Linked DNA regions of Homo sapiens. The protein of the gene in region 1 interacts with the protein of each later gene in a pairwise test. Each region holds a gene or a part of one and is shown in the gene's direction. Other genes may lie near its edges. The genes, in order: KRTAP10-3, ACY3, BRME1 and OLFM2.

Region 1 (5,828 bases):
GCTTTGTTTCCATGTACCTCCTTTGTATTATTATTGCCAAATATATTAGATTTCTATATGTTATAGGCCCAACAACACCAAATATACCTTTTTATATTGCTTTTTAAAAATCAGTTAAGAGAATAAAGGAGAAAATATGCATTTGTACTACTTTTTATAATTACATAATTAGTTTTACTGCTGTTTTGTTTTTCTGTGTGGATTTGAATTTCTGTCTGGAGTTACTTGCTTTTGGTCTGCGGAACGCTAGTATGACTCGTAAGATGCATCTGCAGGTAATAGATTCCCTCAGTTTTGATTTATCTGGGAATGCCTTTATTTTGCCTTCATTTCTGAAAGACAACTTTGTTGGATATAGAATTCTTGGCTGACTTTTTTTTCTTTGAGCACTTTGAATGTACCATCATACTACCTTCTGGTGCCCATTGTTTCTGATAAGAAGTGAACTGTTGCTCTTCTTATGGTTCTCTTATAAATAACTTGTTTTTCTCTTGCTGCTTTCAAGATTTTCTCCTTGTTTTTGACTTTCAGTATTTTTACTATGATATGTCTGTTTGCGTATCTTTTGTGTGTCTCCACCTTAGAGTTTTCTGAGGTCCTGGATATGTAGATTAATGTTTTTCAATAATTTTGGAAAGTTACTAATTCTGTGAAGAATGTCAGTGGTAGTTTGATGGGAATAGCATTGAATCTATAAATTACTTGGGGCAGTATGGCCATTTTCATGATATCGATTCTTCCTATCCATGAGGATGGAATGTTTTTCCATTTGTTTGTGTCCTCTCTTATTTCCTTGAGCAGTGATTTGTAGTTCTCCTTGAAGAGCTCCTTCACATCCCTTATTAGCTGTGTTCCTAGGTATTTCATTCCCTTTGTAGCAATTGTGAATGGGAGTTCACTCATGATTTGGCTATCTGCTTGTCTGTTGTTGGTGTGTAGGAAGGCTTGTGATTTTTGCACATTGATTTTGCATGCTGAGACTTTGCTGAAGTTGCTTATCAGCTTAAGGAATTTTTGAGCTGAGATGATGGGGTTTTCTAAATATAGAATCATGTCACCTGCAAACAGAGATAATTTGGCTTCCTCTTTTTCTATTCGAATACTCTTTATTTCTTTCTATTGCCTGATTGCCCTGTTCAGAATTTCTAATACTATGTTGAATAGGAGTGATGAGAGAGGGTATCCTTGTCTTGTGCTGGTTTTCAAAGGGAATGCTTTCAGCTTTTGCTCATTCAGTATGATATTGACTATGGGTTTATCATAAATACCTCTTATTATTTTGAGATATGTTCTATTAACATCTAGTTTATTCAGAGTTTTTAACATGAAGGGATGTTGAATTTTCTTGAAGGCCTTTTCTGCATCTATTGAGATAATCATGTGGTTTTCGTCATTGGTTCTCTTTATGTGATGGATTACATTTATCGATTTGCCTATGTTGAGCCAGCTTTGCATCCTAGGGATGAAGCTGACTTGATTGTGGTGTATAAGCTTTTCGATATGCTGCTGGATTCAGTTTGCCAGTATTTTATTGAGGATTTTTACATCAGTGTTCATCAGGGATATTGGCCTGAAGTTTTCTTTTTTTGTTGTGTCTGCCAGGTTTTGGTATCAGGATGATGGTGGCCTCATAAAATCAGTTAGGGAGGAGTCCCTCCTTTTCAGTTGTTTGGAATAGTTTCAGAAGGAATGGTACCACCTCCTCTTTGTACCTCTGGTAGAATTTGGCTGTGAATCCATCTGGTCCCGGGCTTTTTTTGGTTGGTAGACTATTAATTACTGCCTCAATTTCAGAACTTGCTATAATCTATTCAGGGATTCAACTTCTTCCTGGTTTAGTCTTGGGAGGGTGTATGTGTCCAGGAATTTACCCATTTCTTCTAGATTTTCTAGTTTATTTTGTAGAGGTGTTTATAGTATTCTCTGATGGCCGTTTGTATTTTTGTGGGATCAGTGGTGATATCCCCTTTATCATTTTTTATTGCATCTATTTGATTCTTCCCTCTTTTCTTCTTTATTAGTCTAGCTAGTGATCTATCTATTTTGTTAATTTTTTCAAAAAACCAGCTCCTGGATTCATTGATTTTTTTGAAGGGTTTTTCATGTCTCTATCTCCTTCAGTTCCGCTCTGATCTTAGTTATTTTTTGTCTTCTGCTAGCCTTTGGATTTGTTTGCTCTTGCTTCTCTAGTTCTTTTAATTGTGATGTTAGGGTGTAGATCTGAGATCTTTCCAGCTTTCTGATGTGGACATTTAGTGCTATAAATTTCCCTGTTAACACTGCTTTAGCTGTGTTCCAGAGATTCTGGGACATTGTCTCTTTGTTCTCATTGGTTTCAAATAACTTCTTGATTTTTGCCTTAATTTCGTTACTTACCCAGGAGTCATTCAGGAGCAGGTTGTTCAATTTCCATGTAGTTGTGTGGTTTTGAGTGAGTTTCTTAATCTTGAGATCTAATTTGATTGCACTGTGGTCCGGTAGACTTTGTTATGATTTCAGTTCTTTTGCATTTGCTGAGGAGTGTTTTACTTTCAATTATAAAGTCAATTTTAGAATAAGTGCCATGTGACACTGAGAAGAATGTATCTTCTGTTGATTTGGGGTGGAGAGTTCTGCAGATGTCTATTAGGTCCATTTGATCCAGAGCTGAGTTCAAGTTCTGAATATCCTTGTTAATTTTCTGTCACATTGATCTGTCTAATATTGACAGCAGGGTGTTAAAGTTTCCCACTATTATTGTGTGGGAGTCTAAGTCTCTTTGTAGGTCTCTAAGAGCTTGTTTTATGAAACTGGGTGCTTTTATATTTGGTGCATATATATTTAGGATAATTAGCTCTTCTCATTGAATTGATCCCTTTATCATTATGTAATGCCCTTCTTTGTCTTTTTTGATCTTTGTTGGCTTAAAGTCTGTTTTATCAGAGACTAGGATTGCAACCCCTGCTTACGTTGCTTTCCATTTGCTTGGTACATTTTCCTCCATTCCTTTATTTTGAGCCTATGTGTGTCTTTGCAAGTGAGATGGGTCTCCTGAATACAGCACACTGACGGGTCATGACTCTTCATCCAATTTGCCAGTCTGTGTCCAGCTATTATTTCTATGAAATAATATTTTTCCACTGTAGTCTGACTTTGCCAGGTAGTCCTCCAACAGAGCCCTTAGCCATACTCATCAAAGGTCAGAGGCTTCAAACCCTGCAGCCTATGGGCCCCCACCAAGCACTCAGTGGACCCCTGGCCTAATTTTGGAAAGCCCTGCAGCCTAGAGCATCATCAGAGCCTCTGCCTTTGCCATTTCAAAGATTTAGTAGAAAATAGCGATCATAGAGTGAGGAGATGAGGGATCCATGATCAGAACTTTGGGGGCTTACTAGCGCACAGGTATGGTCCCGGGCACAGGCATGGGCTGATACACACAGGTGTATAGGTATTTGTGAGACAAGGCTCTGCAATCAGACCCTTTTATTTGTACATTTACTATGACAATGTCCAGGAGCCAACAGTAGAACTAATACATTCTGATGACTTTCTGGCCCATAAGGGAAGAGACCTTGGAGCTCCCAAGGACACCATTGCAGGTGATGTTGCCCGAGATGTGAGAGGAGAAGGTGTGAACACTATTGTGCACACCACCGGGGGAAGGCCCCATAACAGTTCAACGTGAAATGAAACAAAGGTGCTTGCCCCTCATCTCCATCCCTACTGTGCTGGGCCTGCAGCTGCCTCCCTGCTCCCCTCTGCGAGCCAATCTCTGCCCAGGAAGACACTATTCCCTCACACCTGCCCCAGGGCTCACCCCCAGCAGAAATATGCCCCATGGTTCCCACTGACAACCAGCAGTGTCAACCCACAGGGTGGATCTCGCCGTGTGGCCAGGCCAACTGAGCATCTTCAAACTTGTCCACAGCAGAACACATCTCTCCCTTTCCTCAAGGCCCAGAAACTGAGGTTCTCCTAACCTCATCCCTCCTTAGGTGTAGAAGTCTTTTTTTAAGTGCAAACTCCTCCTGGGATGGAGCAGAGGGCTGTCAATTCCAGAATATCTCCTAACTGCCACTGTCCCTGCTTCTGCAGTGTGCTTTGATGCAATCAATATATTTCTACTAGTTTATCTCTGTGGACAAGCCCACATTAGGGAAGCCCTAACTCCAGTCAGGAGCCTCACAAACCAGAACATCCACAAACAATGAACCAACACTACTAACACAACAGTGCCTACAACAACAACAAGGAAGAGGAAGGCTTCTCGAAGCCAGGCAGGGGCAGCACAATCAACACAGAGGGGTATAAAGGTTCCGACCACTCAGAGGCCTGGCACGATCACTCACTCACTCCCTCACTCACTCCCACACTCACTCACTCACGTCTCCCCCAGCTCACCTCCTCCCCACCCCAGCATGGCCACGTCTACCATGTCCGTCTGCTCCAGCGCTTACTCTGACTCCTGGCAGGTGGACGCCTGCCCAGAGAGCTGCTGTGAGCCCCCCTGCTGCGCCACCAGCTGCTGCGCCCCGGCCCCCTGCCTGACCCTGGTCTGCACCCCAGTGAGCTGTGTGTCCAGCCCCTGCTGCCAGGCGGCCTGTGAGCCCAGCCCCTGCCAGTCAGGCTGCACCAGCTCCTGCACGCCCTCGTGCTGCCAGCAGTCTAGCTGCCAGCCAGCTTGCTGCACATCCTCCCCCTGCCAGCAGGCCTGCTGCGTGCCTGTCTGCTGCAAGCCAGTCTGCTGTGTGCCCGTCTGCTGCAAGCCTGTCTGCTGCAAGCCCATCTGCTGTGTGCCCGTCTGCTCTGGGGCTTCCTCTTCATGCTGCCAGCAGTCTAGCCGCCAGCCGGCTTGCTGCACCACCTCCTGCTGCAGACCCTCCTCCTCCGTGTCCCTCCTCTGCCGCCCCGTGTGCAGGTCCACCTGCTGTGTGCCCATCCCCTCCTGCTGTGCCCCTGCCTCCACCTGCCAGCCCAGCTGCTGCCGCCCGGCCTCCTGCGTGTCCCTCCTCTGCCGCCCCACGTGCTCCCGCCTCTCTTCCGCGTGCTGCGGCCTCTCCTCAGGCCAGAAGTCCAGCTGCTGACGGGCAGGTCCCGTTTCTCCAGAGTTGTTCCAGGGCCATCTCTGACTTCCGAAAATCCTTGCAGCCCTGAGCCCTGTCTGAGTCTCCTCTGCCCATAGCCACTGCACCTCCAGCCAGCAATGCTGAGCTTTCATGCCGATTCCCTCCAGGCATGCATCTCTCCCACACCCTCATCTCCATGCTGGCCAGCCGGTGGTCACTGTGTCCTGCCCCATGTGAGTGATCAGTCTGTCAACAAATAAAGTCACCAATGTGCCCTCTCAGAGGTCTTTTTTGCATATCTGGCAAACCCTGTGGGAAGAACTTCAACGTGCCGCGTGGGGTGGGAGCTTCGGGACTCTGGCCTTGAGCTGCATCCAGGCTGACAGCACCAGGGGCGGAGGCAGTCCTGACTTCCCGCTGTGCGGGGTCTGCTGTTGTGGGGTTCTCCTGCCAGCCTCAGCGTCTCCAGGCCCCGGGGGTGCTTCTCTGTGAATCCCCCACACCCACCCGGCCCGGCCTCTCCCTGGGCTCAGCTCCTCCCCCTCTCTCCTTCCTCTGCCTGTCTGACCCCCACTCATCATCTTCTCACCAGCCCTCTCTTATTAAATAAAATAAATATTTCTCATTCCTGGAAGACATTTTAGAGCTGATCTCTTATTTCAAATATCTGTGCACGGTCATCCCAATGCCTGAAGTCTCTGTGGGTCCATTTCAGCTTTCTGTCATTTCCACCAGTTCTCGCTCATGGTGTCGTTTCCTTGTGTGCTTCACTGTTTGCAGCTG
Region 2 (7,119 bases), on another chromosome or scaffold:
GCCAAATATAACCGGACGTGTACATACTACCAGATACAAATAACGATCCTATAGCTTTAACTTTTAAAGGTTTAGCCATGGGTCAGGTAAAATTCACTACTTAAAAGACAGTTCCAACTCTGTCTCCGTCCAACTAACAATTTTAGCTAAAATTTATCTCTCCCATACAGCAGAAGCCCTTTCCTAAATTTTAGGAAGAACACGGTAGAAAGGAGACAGGCAAAAATTTGGCTCTAGTGTCGGAAAACCCGTGAGTCTCTCCCACAGCAATTGTTACCCGATCTAGGGGTTCCCAGATCATAGAGGAGTCCCCAAGTCCCATCACTTCTGGTCACTATTAGCAAACTGTAGCATCTGGTGGGCTGATTGACGGGGAAGTTTCTTTCCCTACCCACTGGGGACAGTTAGGACACTCTAGTACCCAATGGCCCTCTTGTTTACAATATGCACACTGTTGTGTTCTCAAGGGCGGGAGGCCCTTTGGCCGGGCAGTGGGGTCCCTAGGGATCTTACTTATGGCTGATCATCTCCAGTGAACTGTTTTGTTTTTTTGTTTTTTGTTTTTTTCAAGAAAGAGTTTTGCTCTTGTCGCACAGGCTAGAGTGCAATGGCGCGATATCAGCTTACAACCTTCGCTTCCTGGGTTGAAGCGATTCTCCTGCTTCAGCCTCCCGAGTAGTTGGGATTACAAGTGCCCACCACCATGCCTGGCTAATTTTTTATATTTTTAGTAGAGACAGGGTTAGCCATGTTGGCCACGCTGGTCTTGAACTCCTGACCTCAGGTGATCCTCCCGCCTCAGCCTCCCAAAGTGCTGGGATTACGGACATGAGCCACCACGCCTGGCCGCAGTGAACTGTTTCTTGTGTACTGGCTGGTTGTAGCCAAGAGACTCGATGGCTTCTTGTCTTGTGTTGCCTTTTTGTTTTTTGTTTTTTGTTTTTTTTTTGCCCTTCCTGGACCTGGCCACAGTTGCTCAATACCTTAAGGGTAATCTCAACCAATGGAGATGTCAGCATCCCCAGTGTCCCTTCTGCTTTTTGTAGTTTATCCGCATGGCTTCTGCCACTGGAGTCCTGCTACAATTACTGTTTTCCCATATTACCCACCCAGCAGCTTAGAGGCGGGATTGGTGGTGACACAGATCCCACAACTCTTGGCCCACACTCAACTAGTTTTAAAAATATATTGGTGGGGAGGGGCGGGCATGGTGGCTCATGCCTATAATCACCACGCTTTGGGAGGCCGAGGTGGGTGGATCACTTGAGCTTAGGAGTTCGAGACCAACCTAGGTAAGATGGTGAAACCCTGTCTCTATAATATTAGGTTGGTTCAAAAGTAACCGCTGTTTTTGCCATTGAAAGTAATGGCAAAAACTGCAATTACTTTTGTACCAATCTAATTTTTTAAAAATTAATTAATTAAAAAAAATTGGAAGGCATAGATTTCACTCGGCAAGGCAGGAAATCTTGTAACTGCTCTATACTGTGGCTCTGCCGACCGCCCGGCACTGCTCCAGCAGATGCAAACTGCCCGAGATTTTGATGAATTCACTGAAGGAAATAAAGACATTGTGTTTAAAAACACAGCAGAAAGGTTGGGTGTGGTGGCTTATGCCTGTAATCTCAGCACTTTAGGAGGCTGAAGGGGGTGGATCACTTGAGCTCAGGAGTTTGAGACCAGACTGGACAACATAGCAAGACCCCATCTCAAAAAAAAAATTAGCTGGGTGCGTGCCTGTAGTTTCAGCTACTTGGGAGGCTGAGATGGGAGGACTGCTTGAACCTGGAAGTTGGAGGTTGCAGTGAGCCACAGTCGAGCCACTGCACTCCAGCCTGGGTGACAGAGCCGGACCTTGTCTCAAAATTAAAAAAAAAAAAAACCCACTGCAGAAGACCTTCAGAATTGCTTGCCTCTAGAAACCATGCTTTCCTCAGAACATCTAACCCTTCAAAAACTACAGCAGCAGCCAGAACCCACCATTCACGCTGACGCATTCCTTTGTGATAAAGACTTCATTGATTCATTATGTGACAAAGGGAAAATGAGCAGAAACTACTGGGTGGTTCACACCAAACAGAACCTTTAGACCGATTGCTCGTTCCTTCTCCCTCATGGAATTGAAGTTCATTTATCTTCATGCACTCCCTGATCAATCAGGAAAGGCTGTGGCTGACGTCAGCTCCAGGCTCAGCACAGTCTTTATGGGGTGATCTTATAGCTTAGCAGTGCAACCCTGTGGAGTAGAACTGAACGGAGACTTTTGCCAGTTGCAGGAAATGGTCATTAAAAAATACCAGTTTATTCACAGAATAAAGGTGCTTCATGCAGACATCTGTCCCCAGGGTTTCTTCTGCAAAATGCTGATGCTGCTATCATGAATAATGTCTTCAAATATTCTCTTAATGAGGCAGAACAAGCCGGAGCTGGGAATACATTTGTCATAATGTAAGGAAGCAGATCATCATCAGTGACAGTGCCAAGTCTTGAAGATTCTCTCCTGGGTCTTCAGACTAATACACATTTATCTCCCTGGGTTGAAGAAGTACTGTGGGACTATGATGTATACCCACAAAAGGATATTGACAAAGAAGCTCTTTATTTATTTATTTATTTATTTATTTATTTATTTATTTATTTATTTTCTTTTGAGACAAGGTCTCACTGTGTTGTCTAGCCTGGAATGCAGCCATACGATAACGGCTCACTGTACTCACGGTACGATTACCTCCAACTCCCCGTGCTCAAGTGATTCTCCCGCCTCAGCCTCCTGAGTAGCTGGGGCCACAGCTGTGTGTGCCACCACCTGGCTAATTTTTTTTTTTTTTTTTTTTTGAGACAGAGTTTCGCTCTTGTCGCCCAGGCTGTAGTGCAATGGCATGATCTCGGCTCACTGCAACCTCTGCCTCATGCCTCAGCCTCCCAAGTAGCTGGGATTACAGGCACCCACCACCATGCCTGGATAAATTTTGTATTTTTAGTACAGACGGGGTTTTGCCATGTTGCCCAGGCTGGTCTTACACTCCTGACATCAGGTGATCCACTCGCCTCAGCCTCCCAAAGTGCTGGGATTATAGGTGTGAGCCACCGCGCCCACCCTAATTTTTTTTTTTTTTTTGGTAGAGACAGGGTCTCCCTATGTTGCCCAGGCTGGTCTTGAACACCTAGGCTCAAGCAATCTGCCCCCCTTGGCCTCCCAAAGTGTTGGGGTTACAGGTGTGAGCCACTGCACCCAGCTGACAAAGAAGCTCTTGAACAAATTCATTTAATGAGATTCTCTAGCACTAAAATAGTCCTACCTCATTGTAATGTTTTGTAGAGTATCTTATAAAACAATGAAAAAAAACCAGTATTTTAATACATATTTTTCTGTATATTTCCTTCTAGCCTTTGTACATATGATCACATATTTGTAAAAAGTTGTATGTATATATATACAACTTTACCCGCTTTGTGTGATGATATGACAAAAACATTTATCTGAAAAAAGTATTTTTTTCATCAAATGGCAGAGCTCCTGTTTCTGGTAACCCGGGGTATGGCAAGTAGGGGCTCTGGGAGATGGAGCAGCTCAGCCTCCTGTGAAAAATTCTGTTTCTCTAAAAAAGAACAAATTCTCATGCTGGGCGCGGTGGCTCACGCCTGTAATCTCAGCACTTTGGGAGGCCGAGGCGGGCGGATCACGAGGTCAAGAGATCGAGACCATCCTGGCTAACACGGTGAAACCCCGTCTCTACTAAAAATGCAAAAAATTAGCCGGGCGTGGTGGCGGGCGCCTGTGGTCCCAGCTACTCAGGAAGCTGAGGCAGGAGAATGGCGTGAACCCGGGAGGTGGAGCTTGCAGTGAGCCGAGATCGCGCCACTGCACCCCAGCTTGGGTGACAGAGCCAGACTCTGTCTCAAAAAAAAAAAAACGAATTCCCAAAACTAGTCCCACTGTTGTCTACCCAGATCCGGGATCCGGGTTGCCCTTGGCCTGGCCAGAGATGCCTCTCAATCCCCCACGGCACGTAGAGCCAGACAGAAACCGAAAGCAGAGGTGCCCTGCGCTGAAGTCTAGAGATCCCACTGCTAGGTCCAAAGAATTTACCCTTTCAGTCAACCCACGGGGCAAAGTCCACTTTCTTCCCTGAAGGAGCAGCACAGAACAAAAGCTCCAGGCAGCTGCTTCCGCTGTTTCGGGGGTAGGGCGGAGTGACAGCCCCACGGGCCACGCAGCAAGCAGAAGATCCCCGGGAGTCACCCTCAACCCTCTGGGGCCACGTGGGTGAGTTCGCCCGGGGAAGGTGCCGCGGCCCACTGCTTTACCTTAGTGAGCCTCAAGAAGTTAGGATCAGAATCCCAGTCGGCCCCATCTGGGTCGCCAGAGTTTTGTTACCCACACAACGGGTGGGCTCAGTTGCTTGGCGGGTGTTAACTAAAGAGGATTTAATAGGGGATTTTATTTCTTGCAACAAGTAAGGAGAACACCTAGACAGCTCCCAAAGCAGTGTCTCCCCGAGCTGAGGGCTGGGGCAGGTTTTATAAGCATAGGGTAATGAGGCGTGATCTGATTGCATCTTGCAATGAGGTGATGCTGGGAGGCATGATCTAATTGGATGCTGACACAGGGGGGAACCACAGCTCTGACCCCTCTCTGGGTCTCAGTTTCCCCAACTGCAGTGAGGAAATTGGCCCCCGTGATGATGCCCATGACATCACCATCCTCTGCCCTCACTCATGCTGGGGTCTCCATGTGCCCATTTTCAAGCTTGTGCCCGCCCTTTGTTCCTCACTCCCCACAGCTGCCCTTGGCCAGGACTTTCACAGGGTGGAGCCAAGGCCCAGAGAGGGCACTGAATCTCTCCAGGTCACACAGCCTGTCAGGGAGGTGGGGCCAGAGCCAGGTCACACGTGTGCACACAACACACACACACGCACACATGCTCACGCACATGCACGCACACACGCTCTCAAGCACATGCACACATGCACACACATGCACACACACTCTCATGCACACACGCACACATGTACACACACATGCATGCACACATGCACACAATACTCTCATGCACATGCACACACGTACACACGCACACATGCATGCTGTCACACATGCGCACACACGCACACATGCTCTCATGCACACACGCACACATGTACACATACATGCACACATGCACACAATACTCATGCACATGCACACACATGTACACACGCACGCACACACGCATGCTGTCACGTACACATGTGAGTGCACACACGCACACACATGCTCTCATGCACACGCACACATGTACAGATGCACACATGCATGCACACACATGCACACACGCGCACACACTGCCAGGACTGGGGGCTGCTGTTTCTGAGGGTTCCTGGACCCCGTTCTGTTCCATAAACACTCACTGAAATGCAGAAGCTGGACCCCAGCCAAGGGAAGTGAAACTTTCCAGCACCCCTACTGCTGTTCTCCCTAAACTTGGGGGCCCAGCACCTTGTGGCAGGAAGCACCCTGGCCCCCAGCAGCCCCCAAAATAGCTAGGTCTGCCACGGAGGCCCTTCCTTCCTGAGAGGTACCACACCGAGTCAGCAGGATCCCAGCCTCTGTGGGGGTTGGGGGGGCCTTCCAACAAAGACCATGGCCTGGGACTCATAAAGCAGCATGGGGGTCCCTGAGACCCCTACCCCAAGCAAGGAAGGAACAGACCCAGGCCGACAGGCTCCTCTGCTGACTCCCTCTCCCACCACCTGCCAAGGACTCAGTCAAGTCACCCAACCCCTAGAGCTTCAGTCCACACCTGCAAAATGGAGCCGGTGACAGCTGCCCCCAGGGCTGGGCCGGATACAGGAGTTGATGGCATGGCATGGCCCCCTAATGGCAGTCTCTGCCCTCCCTTTGCTGAGGCTCCAGGTGCCAGGAGGAGTGGCCCCTGGAGGGGGCTCATAGGGAGCCCCGGCCCACTGGGGGCTCAGCCTCACACTCCATCCACCCCTCTTGACACCCTGTCAAGATCCCAGCTGCCCTGATGGGAGCCAGGATGACAAATCCCCTGTCCCCACAATCGCCATGCTCTGAGCTCACGAAGCCTTGGGTGTGGAGGGCAGGAGAGCCCAGGCCACACAGAGCTGAGTGTGATCTGGGGCAGCTTCCGAGAGGGTGTAACTTAGAGGGTCCTGGCCACCCAGAGCCCCCCAGGCTGGTGGGCCTGGCATCTGGAGCAGGGCTGGACTGGCCCGGGGAGACCCAGTGTGGTGGTAAAGAAGGCCCAGGATCGATGCCTGGGGGAGGCTCCAGCTCAGGGTCCCAGCACCTGGCATCCAGCAGGCCCTGGCGGAGCAGCTTGCCTCACTCCCCAGTGACTTCGGAACTGGCCTCAGCTCCTCCCAGCAGACAGCTGAGCCTGGTGGGAGGTAGAGGCCCCAGGGCTGAGTGCAGGGGACCTCACCTTCATCCTTCCCCACTTTGCTCTTGAGAGGCAGCAGGAGGGGATGGAGCCACATTGGACGCACTGAGTGCCACCTACAGCCCGCCTCTAGGGCTCTGTGCGCCACCTGCAGCCCGCCTCTAGGGCTCTGTGTGCCGCTGAACAGTCTGCCCCTAGGGTTCTGTGGGCCACCTGCAGCCTGCCTCTAGGGCTTGTGTGCCTGCAGACAATTTTCTGAGCCTCAGTTTTCACATCTATAAAATGAGCCTGAGGGTTGTTCCCAAAACAGGGCAAACCGAGTCATCTGAGTTACACTGTCCTTGAAAATGACTGAAATCCCGGATCAAACATTTTAAAATTTTGCTTAAAGCAACAAAGAGCTGTAAAACTGGGGCTCCACATGGCACCTTTGGGTAAGGGCGACTCAGGAGTGACCACAGCCCTCTCCGGGCTGCAAGGACAGAGGCATGTTGCCGAGGTGGTGAAGGAGGGGCAGCTTGTCATCTTGGTGGCCATCAAGGTGACACCTCTATAGTAACTTTCAATAGCCTGCTCTGGTGGTGACCAAAACCAAGTCACCACCCCACTGCGGGTGTACCTCTTAGTAGTGTTAAGGAAGGTGGCCCCTCTGGGGCCCAGCAGAAGGACGAAGGGCAGGGGCAGGAACTTGCCCGCAGGACCTGGACTCGTTGGGCCGTGGCAGCACAAG
Region 3 (7,025 bases), on another chromosome or scaffold:
CCCAACCTCCACAAGCCCCCTCCTCACTCGGTGCAGTGGCAGAGGGGGAGCTGGGGCTCAGGGCTTACCATTTACACAGCCAACGACTATAGGAGTCCGAGTTGCAGCTCTACTGGGTGTGGAGTCGGTGGTTTTCCAGAAAGTGTAGACCTGCCTTTTGGTGGTTGTCGACATATCTAGGGATGGTGACACACAGCTGCTTTCTCAGCCGGGCCCCCCACATTGAACTGGAGTCCCCAGGAGTGCCAGCCCCTGGCAGCTTCTGCTTCAGTGCCTGACCCTGGCCGTGGGGTCCCAGGGGATGTATTGAGGCGGGTAGACACAGATGGAGAGAAGCTGGGCCTGGGGATGGCTTTATACCTGGGCCTGGGGAGGGGGCTTCACTCCCAAGCTGCAAAAGAGCCTTTGCCCATCTCCTTAGGGTCCTCTGGGGGTCCTGATATGATTCTTTTCCAAACATACATAAGTCATTTTGTTTTTCTGCCAGAACGTGTAAGGGCTTTGCCTCCTTCAGGGATCTGCCCGCCCCACCGGCTGCCCGGATGTGGCCTCCTCTGGCTCCAGAGCCGGTGCCAGCCGTTGGCGTTCATTCTCCTGTCTGGGCAGATGGCAGCCTTGCTTCAGCCCTGCCCCCCAGGGAAAGAGCGACCTCCCTAGCCGTTGGCACACCTGAGCCTGGGCTGAGGGCATCACAGTCACGCCCAGGGAGGTAGGCAGTTCTCTGTCCACACACTGGGTGTGGCAGTGAAGACTCTGGAGGAGTTCGTGCGCCTGCTAGAGGTGAGGCAGGTGGGAGGGGAGGAGGCCAGGCTGGCACCCAGGTCATGCCCCAGCCGCCGCGTCCTGGAACGCAGAGTCCAATTTGCTTTTCAAATGTCAGCCTCTGTTTCTTTGGCTGTCCCTGTGTTGAGATGTTAAAAAAAAAAAAAAAAATTCATGGCCAGGCACAGTGGCTCCCACCTGTAATCTCAGGACTTTGGGAGACCGAGGCAGGAGAGCAGGACCAGCCTGGCCAACATGGTGAAGCCCCATCTCTACCAAAATACAAAAATTAGCTGGGCATGGTGGCGTGTGCCTCTAATCCCAGCTACTCCGGAGGCTGAGGCAGAAGAATCACTTGAACCTGGGAGACTGAGGTTGCAGTGAGCCAAGATCGCGCCACTGCACTCCAGCCTGGGCAAGAGAGCAAGACTCTCTCAAGAAAAGAAAAAATTAGCCAGGCATGGGGATGCATGGCTGCAGTCCCAGCTACTTGGGAGGCTGAGGCAGGAGAATCACTTGAGCCCAGGAGTTTGAGGTTGCAGTGAGCCGAGATTACACCACTGCACTCCAGCCTGGGTGCTGAACTCCCTGTCTCAAAAAAAAAAAAAAAGTGAGTCACAGTGTGGTTCAGTGGTAGAGGCTGAACACGAGCATGTGGGAAAGGCAGGAGTTCTGGTGCTGGGCACAGCTGAAATTTTATGAGAGCTTCATGCCTTGCAAAATGCAAATCCCTCGCTTGAGAGAAGAGCCGCCTCCATTGCCTCCAGTCTGTGGTCTCGTGAGTGGTGGCTTGGAGAGAAGGCTGGGAAATGGTTAAGGTGTTTGGGGCCAGGTGTGCCTAGGTGGCATCCAGCAGGTGAAGCCCCTAGCCCTCCTAAACGGGCTGCCAAACTGCAAGCTTGGAAAAAGACCCTGAAATCCAGACTTGGGGGGATCCAGACAGACAGCCAGGCTGGTCAAACCCGACCAGCATTAGCAGCCTTTCCCCAGCCAGGGGAGGAGGCACCGCCCTGACAGCACTGCCAGGGCCTGGGCGTGTTTGGCTTTGACACGAGGCGTTCCCCAGCAAGTTGAGGCGACCCAGGCAAGGAACACATTCCCGTGGGAAGGTTCCGGGTGGCTCCCGGCAGGAAGGCCGAGGCCCGTGTCTCCCAACATGGGCAGGGGCACGGGGAACAGCAAAGATGGATCGAGCGGGCCGTCTCAGCACCTCCTCCTGACCTCACTGTGGCCACACACTGTGCTAGAGGAGGGGACTCAGAGGTGACACAGCAGAGACAGAGCTTTCAAACCTCAAACCAAGGTCTCGTCATGGGAGGGTTTGGTGTTACTTTCTCATAGATCCTTTGCACTCACTCTTGGACTGATGGAGCTTCTGCAATCTGCATATGGAGTCATTTAATTTAAATTTTAGAGACAGGGCCTTGCTCTGTCGCCCAGGCTGGAGTGCAGTGGCACAATCACAGCTCACTGCAGCCTCAACCTCCCGGGCTCAAGCAGTTGATCCTCCTGCCTCAGCCTCCCAAGTAGCTAGGACCACAGGTGCGTGCCACCATGCCCAGCTAATTTTTTTTTTTTTTTTTTGTACAGACAGGGTCTCGCCGTGTTGCCCAGGCTGGTCTGGAACTCTTGGCCTCAAACAATCCTCCCACCTCAGCCTTCCAAAGTGCTGGGATTACAGGTGTCCCCAGCCTGGCTCATTGCCTCTTTTCTGAGGGACATCATAGGTCACCACTGTAACGGAGCTTAACATTTTCCATGGAAATTAAACCACCATTGACGCTTAGAAGCTTAAGCGCCGTGGAGTTACCAGGCTTTCCCCTGTATTCACTGGGAGTTTTCCCCTCGTGTTATATTTGCAAACTCCTTTCCTAACAGGATGTCTGTGGCACATTCAGCCAAGGTAGACGACTCCACTTCACCGCAGTTGCCCCCGCTTTGTGTTTTCTCTGTACCCGTAAAGACAGTGAGGGGCATGCAGGAGACTGCAGTGGTGTCAGGGCCAGAGATCATGGCACAGTGGTGCCCCCACTGCCCAGATCAGCCTGTGGGAGGCCCGGGCCTAGGAGCGGACACCAGGGTTGGCTGTGGCCTTTCTCTTTCCAAGGGGAAAGGACGGGCGCAGCCCAGGCTGGTAGCCTCGGGTCTACCCATCGTGGATTTCCTCCCCGTTACCGCTCTTCCTCTGCAGGAGTCCCAGCCAGCCCCGATGTGACCTGCTGTGGCCGCGGTGAAGCCAAAAGCATCAGCGTGACTTCTGGTTCCCCTGTGCAGAGCTTGCCCGACCCAGGCCTCGACCACTCACACCTTGTGCTCTCTTTCCAGCTCTTTCCTTCGGGGAACAAGCCGGGCCCTTGCTGGCCGGGCCCCAGCTCACATGCCAATGGAGACCCTGTTGCAGTGGCCAAGGCCCAGCCGAGGTAGGTGTGGCGTGGGTGAGAAGTGGCTCCAGGACCCTCACAAATTTTACCAAGGAGGGTGACAGATGGAGGAGACAGACCCCAGTTCTCCCTCCCTGGGCCTCGACTTCCTCAGTCCAGCAGGGGAGCTGAGCCCTGTCTTTCAAACTGTATACATTCCCCTGCTCCCCGAAAGCAGAGAATGGGCGACAGTGACCAGTGATCGACACCCAACCCAGCATCTCCCCACCCAGAAGCTCCCCAGGAGCCCTGGGACAGTGCCTCCGGCTCTGTGGGCTCTTTCTCTCTGGGAAGAGGGGCCAAAGCTTCCTCCTGAGTCCCTGGGAAGGGGAGGGGACCCAGACAGGGCTCAGAACTGTTGGCTGAGACCATCTTGGAGCTGTTCCTAGCTCTGGCACCAGGCGGGCACCCGAGTGAGTCTAACCTGCCCTCACCTCCTCCCCTCCCCACTTGGCTCTTGCCCTAGGCGAACCACCTCCTCCCTCCCACAGGCCACCAGTGAGCCGTCCTCCAGCCTGCTGTGTGTGAGGAGGGCACCCTCTCCCCCGCACCATGCCCGGGGTCTCCGCAGCCTGTCCCCTCCTCCCGTGCCCTCCCACAGCCCTCCTCGAAGCCAGCGCTGGGTGGCTGCCCTCTCTGTTACCTGGCACTTGAACCTGCCTCTCTGCAGAGGCGGCAGCTTATCAATTATTTATGGCCAAGTTTCTGTTTCTGTCTGGCAGGGGTGGAGGAGGGTTTGGGACTCAGCCCTTGGCTGTGTGTGGCCCCCACACCCTCCTCCTCCTTCTCCTCCCCTAGCAGAGGGCGGCTCTGTCCCTGCCTCCTGCCGTCACTCCCTGTGACTTGTACCTGCTGTGCCACTGGCCACCTCCCTTAGCCACACACACAACCTGCACGTGGACCAGAGGCAGTTCATCAGAGCGGCCCGCTGTGGTTTGAGTGAAGAGCCGGGAGGGTTCACATCTGAATCTCCGACAGCGTCCCAGGGCCAATGCAGCTCCCCTCCCCACCGTCCTGGATGTCTGGAAGCTCCCAGAGGGCCCCGGGTCTGGTTTGGTGGCTTGAGGCTGAATGACACACACAAGAGGCTAAGACCCAGGGGCTGCCAGACACCTCAGGGTGACCAAGGCAGGAGCAGCAGGACAGCAGTTTCCATAGTGACAGCCCCGGAGGTGCTGCGAAGCCTGGGGCATGGGCGGGTTTAGGGCGGGTGGCCCCCACTTACCCGCCTGGCCACCTGTACTGCCTGTGTCTGAGAGTGGCACCTGTTCTGTGGGGTGGGGGAGGTGTTCTGTGGCTCCTTGGCTCTTCCGTGATTTTTTTTTTTTTTTTGAGACACAGTCTTACTCCCATCACCCAGGCTGGAGTGCAGTGGTGCAACCTCAGCTCACTGCAGCCTCGATCTCCCAGGCTCGCATGATTCTCCCACTTCAGCCCCCTAAGTAGCTGGGATTACAGGTACCCGCCACCACACCCGGCTAATTTTGTATATTTTTTTTTAGAGATGGGATTTTGCCGTGTTGCCCAGGCTGGTCTCAAACTCCTGGATTCAAGTAATCCACCTGCCTCAGCCTCACAAAGTGGTGGGATTACAGGCATGAGCCATCGTGCCTGGCGGGATATTTTTTAGATAGAGTCTTGCTCTGTTGCCCAGGCTGGTGTACAGGATCATAGCTTACTGTAGCCTCCATCTCCCAGGCTCAACTGATCCTCCCACTTCATCCTCCTGAGTAGCTGGGACTACAGGCGCGCACCACTATGCCTGGCTAATTTTGTATTATTTGTAGAGATGGGGGTCTCACTACATTGCCGAGGCTGGTCTTGAATTCCTGGGTTCAAGCCATCCTCCCACCTTGACCTCCCAAACCTTCCAAGGATATGAATGCCATCTGGGCTGGCCTTTCTAGCACTGCCCTGGGTGCTGGGGAGGCAGTGTGGGACAAAACACAGAGTTGAATGCTACTGGGGGATTCGGGGTGTGGGGACATGAGAGACAGCAGATTAGATAGTCAGATGGCAGAGTGTTGGGGAAAAAAAGGCAGCGGAGAAGGGGTTAAAATGTAAGGAGGAATCAGGGAAGCCACCACCAGGAGGAGACATTTGGGAAAGAACATTCCAGAATCCTGAGAGGTGCTCAAGGAATGGCCAGGAGTCTAGTGTGGCTAGAGCCGAGGGGAGGGGAGAAGCGGGGGATGAGGGGAGGGCACGGGGCAGGCAGGTGGTGCACAGCTGCGGGAGGAGAGGGCTTGCCTCTGAGCTAGGTTTCCAAGTTCACAGCCCCCAGTGCCTGTGGGGGACAAGCCACAGGGGCAGGAGATAGGGAGGCGGTGGCAGCAGCGTCCTGAGAGGGCAGGGCAGGTAGGGGAGAAGCGGTTGGGTTCTGGGCCTGCTGGGCAGTGGAGCCAGCTGGGTTGGCCATCAGGGTTCTGTCGTGAACAGAGGAGGACAGGCTGGACACCTGGAAAAGATGGCGCGAGGCCCTGCGGAAGCCCCTCCCACTGGAGAGCTCTGGTAGTCCAGTGAGGTCGGGCCACTCTCAATTTCCTTCCCTGCTGGCCAGGACCTTCGTGGGGATCCAGGCCTCTGAGGCCTCCAGGATGGAGGATGCCACCAACGTCGTGCGTGGCCTCATCGTTGAGCTCTCCAACCTGAAGTACGGGGTGGGCTTGGACTCACGGCACAGGGTCTGCGGGAGGCCAGTGGGGACTCAGAGGAGCAGGGAGGGACTGAAGTGTGAAGCCCCTAGGTGGGCAGCGAGGGTCAGGCACCTCACTGCTGCTGGGTCCTCACCGTGGCCCCCCTCCCCCGTCCTTTGCAGAACACAGGCTCTGAAGAAAGGCTGCAACAGGCCCAGCCTGTGCTACAACAGGCCCTTTCTGGTTATGTGCACGTGTGTGAGCCGTGTGTGTGCACCTGAGTCATTGGTGACCATGTGGCTGTGAGGCGCGGCCCCCTCTGTCACCTGGTGACCACTGAGCCCCACACGCATGCCTGTGTTTCCCCCACAGCCGGCTGATCATGGGCACCCACCGGGACCTGGAAGCTTTCAAGCGCCTTAACTACCGGAAGACAAAGCTGGGAGGCAAAGCCCCCCTGCCTTACCCTTCCAAGGGGCCTGGGAATATCCCTCGAGGGGACCCACCCTGGAGGGAGTTGTAGGCCACTTTGAGGTCTGTGTTTCCTTTGCCACCCAGCCCCCATGTCCGCAGACCTCCTCCAAGATGCTCCAGGGGGTCCTAGTGGACCCTACAAACCTCCCTTCAGTTGCCCGGAAGTTGGTCTTCCATGGACAACACAAAGGAGGCCGTGAGGTCCTGGCCTCACCTGGCCAGGGTCAAGGTCATTTGCCACCCTTGGCTTCAGGGAGGGAAACTGTGTCTCCCACAGCCCCAGTGACTTCAAGCGGGCCTGGGCTCCAGGAAGCTGGCCACCTCTGAGCAGGGCCCATCCTGTCCGGATTTGCAAATTTTAGGGTCCTGAGCCAAGTATGGATGGTTCAGAATTTGTTTCTTTCCTGGAGGAGAAGAGAGCTCCCTTTGTTTTCTTTCTCCCCATTTCCATTTTATTTCTTCTGGGAAGACCCATAATAAATGATTCTGTAGAGGCCCCGTGACCTGCTGTTTGGGGCTGAGGCTTCAGTTCCTTCACCTTCCGCCCACAAACCTCTCTACCCACTTCCTCCTCCTCGCCCTCTACGAGTTTTATGCCTCAGCTTCCCTGGGAAAGCAAGGGGGGGGCGAATCTCCAGGGGTGGGTGACTGTGTGCCCACATCTGTGTGCAGGCTCTTGAGCATACACGCGGGTCGAAGCCTAAGAGACGCCCTGGGCGATCATCCAGCTGCA
Region 4 (8,011 bases), on another chromosome or scaffold:
ATAATATATTCAGGGATTAGCAAGAGCAAAGGTATGTGTTGGCAGGCATTCACTTCATGATCATTTTCTCTATGAAGTGGGTGGTGCAGGGTGTGAGGAAACAGATGTGGGCTGTGAGAGGGTGACAGGAACCCATGGCTGTCCAAGTTCCTGTCTAATTGGCTGTCCAAGTGCCAATTAGAAAAACCCAATGGCCAGATGGCAAGATCCAACGCCCTGCCTCCCTGCTTCCTGTCATGGAGAATGACCTGTGCCCAGTGCCAGACCCTGAGTCCCCAGTTCATCCATTTTGCCACAATAGATCCTTGAGAAGCGGATCCTGATGTCTCTTCAATGATGGCCCACAATTCTGACCACTGCACCATAGACAGTGCACTCTTCTTAACATTAACCACAGTGCTGACCTTGAAGCTGATATCAGTGCAACTAGGATGCTGAGTGTGACTTTGACCTTAGTATGACTCAATCATAATTTTGACCATAGCTTGGCCAGGTCATTATCCACAGCAAGCTCAGGACAAGGACCATAGCACTAGGACAGAGCACAGCATAACCAGGAAACTGACTGTAGTACTAATCACCACACTGACCACAACACAACCAAGAATGACCAGGAGTGACCACAATTCTGACCACAATGCTGACCCTGGCAGAACCAGGATGTTGACGGCAGCACAGATCCCGGTTCAACAGGACACAAACCACAATGCCATCAGGACACCCAGAGGGCCACTAACCATACCAGTCAACGACCAACGGCATCGAATGCATTGACTAAGGTCCAGTCAGAAAAACAGCCCATCCCAGCAAATTCAATAGAAAGAATTTAATATGGGGACTTTAATTAGCCACACACTGAGGTATTAGGTAGGTAGGTTTGTTTGTTTGTTTGCTTTTGTGGGGTTTTTTGAGACAGGGTCTCACTCTGTTGCCCAGGCTGGAGTGCAGTGGAGTAATCATAGCTCACTGCAGTCTCGACCTTCTCAGGCTCAGATGATCGTCCCACCTCAGCCTCCTGAGTAGCTGAGACTACAGGTGTGCACCACCATGCCTGGCTCATTTTTGTATTTTTGGTAGAGATGCAGCATCTCTACAGAGATGTTGGCCAGGCTGGTCTTGAACTCCTTGGCTCAAACAATCCACCTGCCTCAGCCTCCCAAAGTGTTGGGATTAGAAGTGTTAGCCATGGCACTCAGCCGATAGGTAGGTTTTGTTTTTGTTTTTTTCTTTTTTGAGACAGAGTTTCACTATTGTTGCCCAGGCTGGAGTGCAATGGCATGATCTCAGCTCACTGCAATCTCTACCTCCTGGGTTCAAGCGATTCTTCTGCCTCAGCCTCCTCAGTAGCTGGCATTACAGACACCTGCTACCATGCCTGGCTAATTTTTTGTATTTTTAGTAGAGACAGCATTTTGCCTTGTTGGGCAGGCTGGTCTCAAACACCTGACCTCAGGTGATCCACCCACTTCAGCCTCCCAAAGTGCTGGGATTACAGGTATGAGCCACCGCACCTGGCCCTATTAGGTTGGTTTTAAGCGCAAACTGGAGCAGGTGAATCAACTCTAGTTGCTAGCTATCATCTTTGCAAGGACTGAAACAACAAAGGGAGGTGGTAGTTACCTGAATCCAGGAGCTGCAGTTACCTGGCCAGTCACCTGCCCCCACCCCCCACCATGGTGGGGAATACCTAATGGGACTGAGACCACAGAGGAGGCACAGCAGCCATGGCTAGAGACACTCAAAGTGGAGGGGGGGAAATTCTCTGGCTTCTCCTTTCTTGGCACCCTCCAATCTGCCTGTAGACCTCCCATTGGCTGAGCCTAACCAGATGCAAAGAAGCCTGGGAAATGTAGTGTGTAGAGAACCTGAGAAAGATAATTTGCAGGAGCCATTGCCCTGATACAGAGGGGAGCAGGGGGAAAGTGGGGAATAGATCTAAGTGCATATCGACCAAATTCCAACCATATAACACAGGCTGTAGCTTAGTTGTAACTGTGATCGTCTTAGTGACCAGAGCCCAAGGAGGACACTGTTCATGGTCCTGAAATGCAGCATTCATGAGTCAAGAGTGCTGACTCTTGACCGTGAGACCCACTCTTGGTCAAGAGCTTGTGGGTCCTACCAACCAATGTCCTCCTTTTATGCAATGCCAACTGCAGGCTTGGCCTGAAGGGCCCACAAAGGACTGTCTCCCATTTGGGAAAAGGAGATAGAAGAATAGGATGGGTGCGGTGGCTCATGCCTGTAATCCCAGCACTTTGGGAGGCTGAGGCAGGTGGATCACCTGAGGTCAAGAGTTCATGACCAGCCTGGCCAATATGGTGAAACCCCATCTCTACTAAAAATATGAAAAATTAGACAGGCCTGGTGGCAGGCACCTGCAATCCCAGCTACTTGGAAGGCCGAGGCGGGAGAATTCCTTGAACCCGGAAGGCAGAGGTTGTAAGCCGAGATCAAGCCACTGCACTCCAGCCTGGGTGTGACAGTGTGAGACTCCATCTCAAAAAAAAAAAAAAAAAAAAGAGATAGAAGAATAAACAGGATGTCTTCGCAGGCTCAGACTCTATTTTGTGTCCACATCCCATGATGAGTGTCCTCAACCCAGTGCATGGTTGGTTATTGCAAGGCGTGCTGGGGAGTGAGTGCTAGCTAGGTGCTCTCTTTGCTTAGAGTCACAGATGTCTCCCAATAACTGCAAAAAACAGGTCTTCTAAGAGGGGGAAAGCTTTTTCCCTAAGGTCACATGGCCAAGAAGTGGCAGCACCAGGGTTGAACCCAGATCTGTGGGTCACCAAGCTCTTTCTCATTGACCTGACAAAACCATCATCGACATGTTTTATCCCCAGTAGGGTTGAGACAGGAATGATCCAGGGTGGTCACAGGCAGCCGTTTCACATGACTAGAGGCTATGGGCTGATAAGATCCTGAAAACCAGGGTGTGGACCAAGCTGGCTAAGACCTACTGGACCCAACATGGCGTTACATTCTACCTAGGTTTCACCTAGGATCTCATTATGTACTCATTAAAATACTAAAATTACCCACCCACCAGCGCCCTTGACAATTCCAGGGACACCCAAATTTGGTGTAAAAGTGGGTGGCACCACAGTCCACCTTTTTCCAGTTTTCATGAATATTCCATCCCTTGGTTAAAGAGATACACAGTGGCCTGTTGTGGTGGCTCACGCCTGTAATCTCAGCACTTTGGGAGGCCAAGGCGGGTGGATCACGAGGTCAGGAGTTTGAGACCAGGCTGGCCAATATGGTGAAACCCTGTCTCTACTAAAAACACAAAAAATTAGCCGGCTGTGATGGCGCACACCTGTAATCCCAGCTACTCAGGAGGCTGAGGCAGGAGAATTGCTTGAACCTGGGAGGCAGAGGTTGCAGTGAGCCGAGATCACACCACTGCACTCCAGCCTGGGTGACAGAGCGAGACTTTGTCTCAAAAAAAAAAAAAAAAAAAAAAAAAAAGAGACACATAAAGGTAGCAGTCCCAAACCACCTTGCCCATCTCTCTCTCTTAAGTACGCCCACTCCCTTTTCTCAAGTGTGGACTTTTCCCTTAACAAAAAAATCTCCGAACTTTTCATGATTTTCTGATTCCTCCTTGAATTCATTCTTGCGATGGTGTTAAGAGCCTGGACACCAGCTGGGGTCGAGGCCCCACCAGCGTCTGGGGAGACCCCTCCTAGCCCAACAGTATCAGGGTCACAAAAATGCCAGGCTTCCTGGCCTCGCATATTTTATGCCCGATTTCTTTCCAATCTGACTTATTTGCCCGCCCCCCTCCTCCACCTCTGCCTACATATATCCGAATCCCTAGAGGGGCTGTGGGGAGGAAAGACGACTAGGGACACTTTTTTTTTTTTTTTTTTTTTGAGACAAGGTTTGCTCCTGTTGCCCAGGCTGGAGTGCAATGGCACGATCTCTGCTCACTGCAACCTCTGCCTCCCGGGTTCAAGCGATTCTCCTGTCTCAGCCTCCCGAGTAGCTGGGATTCCAGGCATGCACCACCACGCCCGGCTAATTTTTGTATGTTTTAGTAGAGGTGGGGTTTTGCCATGTTGGCCAGGCTGGTCTTGAACTCCTGACCTCAGATGATCCACCCTCCTCAGCCTCCCAAATTGCTGGAATTACAGGCGTGAGCCACCGCGCCCGGCCTAGGGAGACTTTTGGAGGAGTGAGAGGCAGAGAAAGGCTGGAAAGCCTCCCGAAAGTGAGGCTAGACAAGGACGCCCTTCATATGCAAATGGCTTCGCGTGGAGGCGGTGTTAATATTTTGATTCTCTCGGGGGATGTGGTCTTTCATCTTGGGCTATTGAAACAGGGAGCGAAGAGAAACTCTTCCAGGTGTGGCGGAGGCGGGGAGGCTTCCAGCGGGAGGACTGGTGGGGAAATGGGGCGCCCGGGGAGAGTGAAAACGAGACGCCCCTTTTTGAGGCCAAGCCCACCCACGTGGCCATTTCCATTGGCCTCTTGCCTGATTCTCGGTCTCCTGTCCCCCCAACCTCAATTTTTTCCTCTTATTCCCCGTCTCCATCTATGCCTCACCCCTCTTGTCCTGGCATTGACCCCTCCTCCAACTTCCAATTTCAGATTCTGCCTCAGTTTCCCTGTTGACTCTTGAGTTTTTAGGGAGGGGGCGTTCATCATTTCCCCTCTCTGCTACCAGGCCTTCCTCCTATTCCTCTCCCCCAACCATTCGTCCCCGTCCCACCTGCAACGTGGGAAATGCCCCCGGAGGGTGAAATTTACAAACACGTGACGGGCACCCCTCCCCCACCTCCGCGACCCGCTCCCGGAATGGCCTGGGGGTTGGGGGGCGCTGCCAAGTCCTGTCCTCAGGTCCCCTCGCCGGCGCTGGCTCCCCCACTTCCCCGCCCCCACCCCCCCACCCGACCCTGCTCGAGCTGCTCCCGAAGAGGAGCTGGGGGCGGGGCGGGGGGCGGAGCCCGCAACAAAGACTCGGAGCGAGCGAGGGGGCGGGGGTGGGGCGGAATCCCGGCCGCCGGCGAGGCGGGGGAGGCGGCGGCGCAGGGTCGCCCCGGCCGGGCGGGCGGGGTCGCGCCTGGTGGCGGTCCCCGCGCCGAGGCGCCGCTAGGGCGGGCGGGGGTCGGGACGCCGGGCTAGGGGCGCGTCATGTGGCCGCTCACGGTCCCGCCGCCGCTGCTGCTGCTGCTGTGCTCAGGCCTGGCCGGACAGGTAGGGGCCCGGCGGGCAGGTGCGGGCGCGGGTGGCTCCGGGAGAGGAGGGGGGCGCGGAGGGTTCCCGGAGAAACGGGGTTGGGAGGCTCCACAAGCCCCCCCAGCTGCAGGGCGGCGAGGGGCGGGGGTCGCAGCGGGGGAGGGGCCGGGACGTGCACTCTCTGGCTTGGGAGAGGACGAGGGGGGCTTCAAATCCAGCCTCAAGCTGGGCTGGTTTGGGGGGTGGCGTCTTTGGGGTTCTCAACCCCTCCATGGCCCCGAGCCCCCACCCCGCCATCTCGCTGGAGCTGAATGGGGTTGGGAGGGAAACTTCAGGGGGCATTGGAGGGGGGCGGTTGCTTACCCTTGACTTCCTCTTCGGGGCCGAGATGCCCAGTTTCTGAAGCCCTCCACTCCTCGCCTGCAGCCCCCAGTGTGGGGCAGGGGACGGGACTCACGTGAGAGTGACTGACGGGGACGCGTGTGAAATGCTGTGGGGGTGCAGGGTAAACGTGTGTGTCTTTGTGTCGTGGTTGGGTGTGACCGGGGGGAGTTTGTGTGTGTGGCGGTTGGGGGGCTTGTCCAACTAGTGCCCGAGTTGGGGTGTGATCAGTACGTGAGACAGAGTCTGTGTGTGACCGTGTCCTCATTACTGGCTCCAGATGACTGGGTGTTGTACAATACGTGTGTGGCCAGGTGTGTGGCCGTGTGAGAGCCTTGGAGTGAGCGTGTGCTATTCTGTACCTTTGGGTAAATCACTCTAAAAGGGTGTGTGTGTGTGCAAGCGCTGTGTGTGCAAACGTGTCCATCCATGCACGTGTGTGTGTGTATCTTGGTGCCTTGCTCACAACCGCACACGCCATTCATACCCTTACAGAAGCGGGTCTCCCTCCCCATGGCACCTTTCTCTTGGGCAGGCTCAGGGAGGCTTGCAAAATGTGGGGCGTCCACGCTCTCTTTTGCTATTGGAAAGCCCCTCTCCTCCTCCATCTTGGGAGTGAGAGCACCCCCAAGTTCTCAGATCTGTAGGAGTTCACAGGGAAGCTGGGATCAAAAATAATAAAATAGTCATTATGATAACAGTGATCATTCATTACGTGCTAATTTGAGAGGTGCTGTTTCAATCACACAGCACAGACTAAGGCATTTAACCCCCTCTGCCTCCTCCCTACTAGAGCATGGTATTGTTACCTCATTTTATGGATGGGGAAACTGAGGCGCAGAAAAGTTAAATCACTTGCTCAAGCTCGAGAGTGACAGAGGTGGGACTGAACCGAGGCAGTCCGGCTCCTGAGCCCACACGATTACCCTCTTGTTAAATAATCCGCTCCATGGGTGTGGACAGCGTCCGTGAAGACATTGCTAGGTGGGCTTTTAGGTAGATAGGCAGGGGAGAAACAATTTGGGCACCTTCCCCTTATCAAGAAAAGAATCAGACCCTTGTGCTCACCCCGAGGGGGGTGTTGGGAGGAATGGAGGTTAGACTCCAGATAGAAGGATTTCCAGGCCACGAGGAGAGATTGTGGGGTCCCCTCCCTCGCTCCTCCATTTCCCCACGCATCTCAGCACCCACGCGCTGGGTGGGATAGGGAGTGTGCCCAGCCCCAGGCATGAGGACACACACAATAGGTACTCAATGGATGTGTGAGCCTGAGAGAAGCCAAGAGACACACCTGGGAGACGAGAGACCAAAAGAGGCACACACTTGAGAAACCAGTGGAAAAAAAATGAGCCAGGAATCAAGTTGAATTATCCTTGACCTAGCAGAGGAGACAGAGAACCACCCCCTGTGGCTTCTCCTCCACTCCCTGCTAGGGGGGCACTAGATTTTCTGGCTTCTCACCAAGATTGGCTAGGATGCCAGAGTTTGCTGCCAGAATTGCAATTGGAGGGTGACTCCTACAGCCCCCAGGGCTGGGAGGGAGTTGCTTTGGGGGCGGGACTAACGAGGTCAGTGGAGGCGGGGCTAAAGGACAACGGGGGCGTGGCCAAATGAGGTAATCCGTTAGGGCGGGGCTGGTGGAATCCTGCCGCGGGCTGCAGTGCCTCCAGGCGGCCACCGCGGGAACTACATGGTTGTGAAACAGTCTCGGCGCCCCATACACCCCCTTGGCGTTGGCCCACCAAGCCTGGCACCCCAGGGAAGGGAGGGGTCTGCAGAGAGGATGCTCTACCCACTCTTCGCTCCCTCCATCACTTTCCAAAGACTTCTTCCCTGTCCCTGATGGGCCCAGGGGTCCTTCCTAGAAATCATTGGTTAATCCATTCAATGAACAGATATGATTATGCACTGGGGATACAGCCACCAACTGAGTCATCAAATCCCTGCTCTCCTGGAGTTGACCTAGCAGAGGAGACAGAAAAGAGCCGAATAACCATGTAATACGGTGTCGGCAACTAAATATACATATAATACAATGCAAGTAGCATGAAGAATAACAGATAAAGTATAGAAGATTAGACTGGAGCCGGGTGCTGTGGCTCACGCCTGTAATCCCAGCATTTTGGGAAGTTGAGGCAAGTGGATCGCCTGAGGTCAGGAGTTCGAGACCAGCCTGGCCAACATAGTGAAACCCTGTCTCTACTAAAAATACAAAAAATTAGCTGGGTGTGGTGGCAGGCGCCTGTAATCCCAGCTACTAGGGAGGCTGAGGCAGGAGAATTGCTTGAACCTGGGAGGCAGAGGTTGCGGTGAGCTGCGATCGCCATTGCACTCCAGCCTGGACAACAAGAGTGAAACTCTGTCTCAAAAAAAAAAAAAAAAAAAAAAGATTAGAGTGATAGCAGTCGGGCATGGAGGCTCACGCCTGTAATCCCAGCACTTT

What was found.
Region 2: the proteins of KRTAP10-3 (region 1) and ACY3 interact in a two-hybrid assay, tested with the Homo sapiens proteins (2 studies listed by BioGRID and IntAct).
Region 3: the proteins of KRTAP10-3 (region 1) and BRME1 interact in a two-hybrid assay, tested with the Homo sapiens proteins (2 studies listed by BioGRID and IntAct).
Region 4: the proteins of KRTAP10-3 (region 1) and OLFM2 interact in a two-hybrid assay, tested with the Homo sapiens proteins (2 studies listed by BioGRID).

The regions. Positions count from the first base shown.
Region 1 is NC_000021.9:44,557,285-44,563,112, reverse strand, and holds KRTAP10-3 (keratin-associated protein 10-3), read left to right. Parts: upstream 1-4,317; 5' UTR 4,318-4,397; coding exon 4,398-5,063; 3' UTR 5,064-5,323; downstream 5,324-5,828. UniProt on the Homo sapiens protein: In the hair cortex, hair keratin intermediate filaments are embedded in an interfilamentous matrix, consisting of hair keratin-associated proteins (KRTAP), which are essential for the formation of a rigid and resistant hair shaft through their extensive disulfide bond cross-linking with abundant cysteine residues of hair keratins.
Region 2 is NC_000011.10:67,647,731-67,654,849, reverse strand, and holds the start of ACY3 (N-acyl-aromatic-L-amino acid amidohydrolase (carboxylate-forming)), read left to right. Parts: upstream 1-4,119; 5' UTR 4,120-4,267; intron 4,268-7,119. UniProt on the Homo sapiens protein: Plays an important role in deacetylating mercapturic acids in kidney proximal tubules. Also acts on N-acetyl-aromatic amino acids.
Region 3 is NC_000019.10:13,882,118-13,889,142, reverse strand, and holds the end of BRME1 (break repair meiotic recombinase recruitment factor 1), read left to right. Parts: intron 1-3,087; coding exon 3,088-3,182; intron 3,183-3,648; coding exon of another isoform or gene 3,649-4,024; exon of another isoform or gene 4,025-4,640; intron 4,641-5,742; coding exon 5,743-5,835; intron 5,836-6,190; coding exon 6,191-6,341; 3' UTR 6,342-6,795; downstream 6,796-7,025. UniProt on the Homo sapiens protein: Meiotic recombination factor component of recombination bridges involved in meiotic double-strand break repair.
Region 4 is NC_000019.10:9,933,498-9,941,508, reverse strand, and holds the start of OLFM2 (noelin-2 isoform 2 precursor), read left to right. Parts: upstream 1-4,993; 5' UTR 4,994-5,142; coding exon 5,143-5,205; intron 5,206-8,011. UniProt on the Homo sapiens protein: Involved in transforming growth factor beta (TGF-beta)-induced smooth muscle differentiation.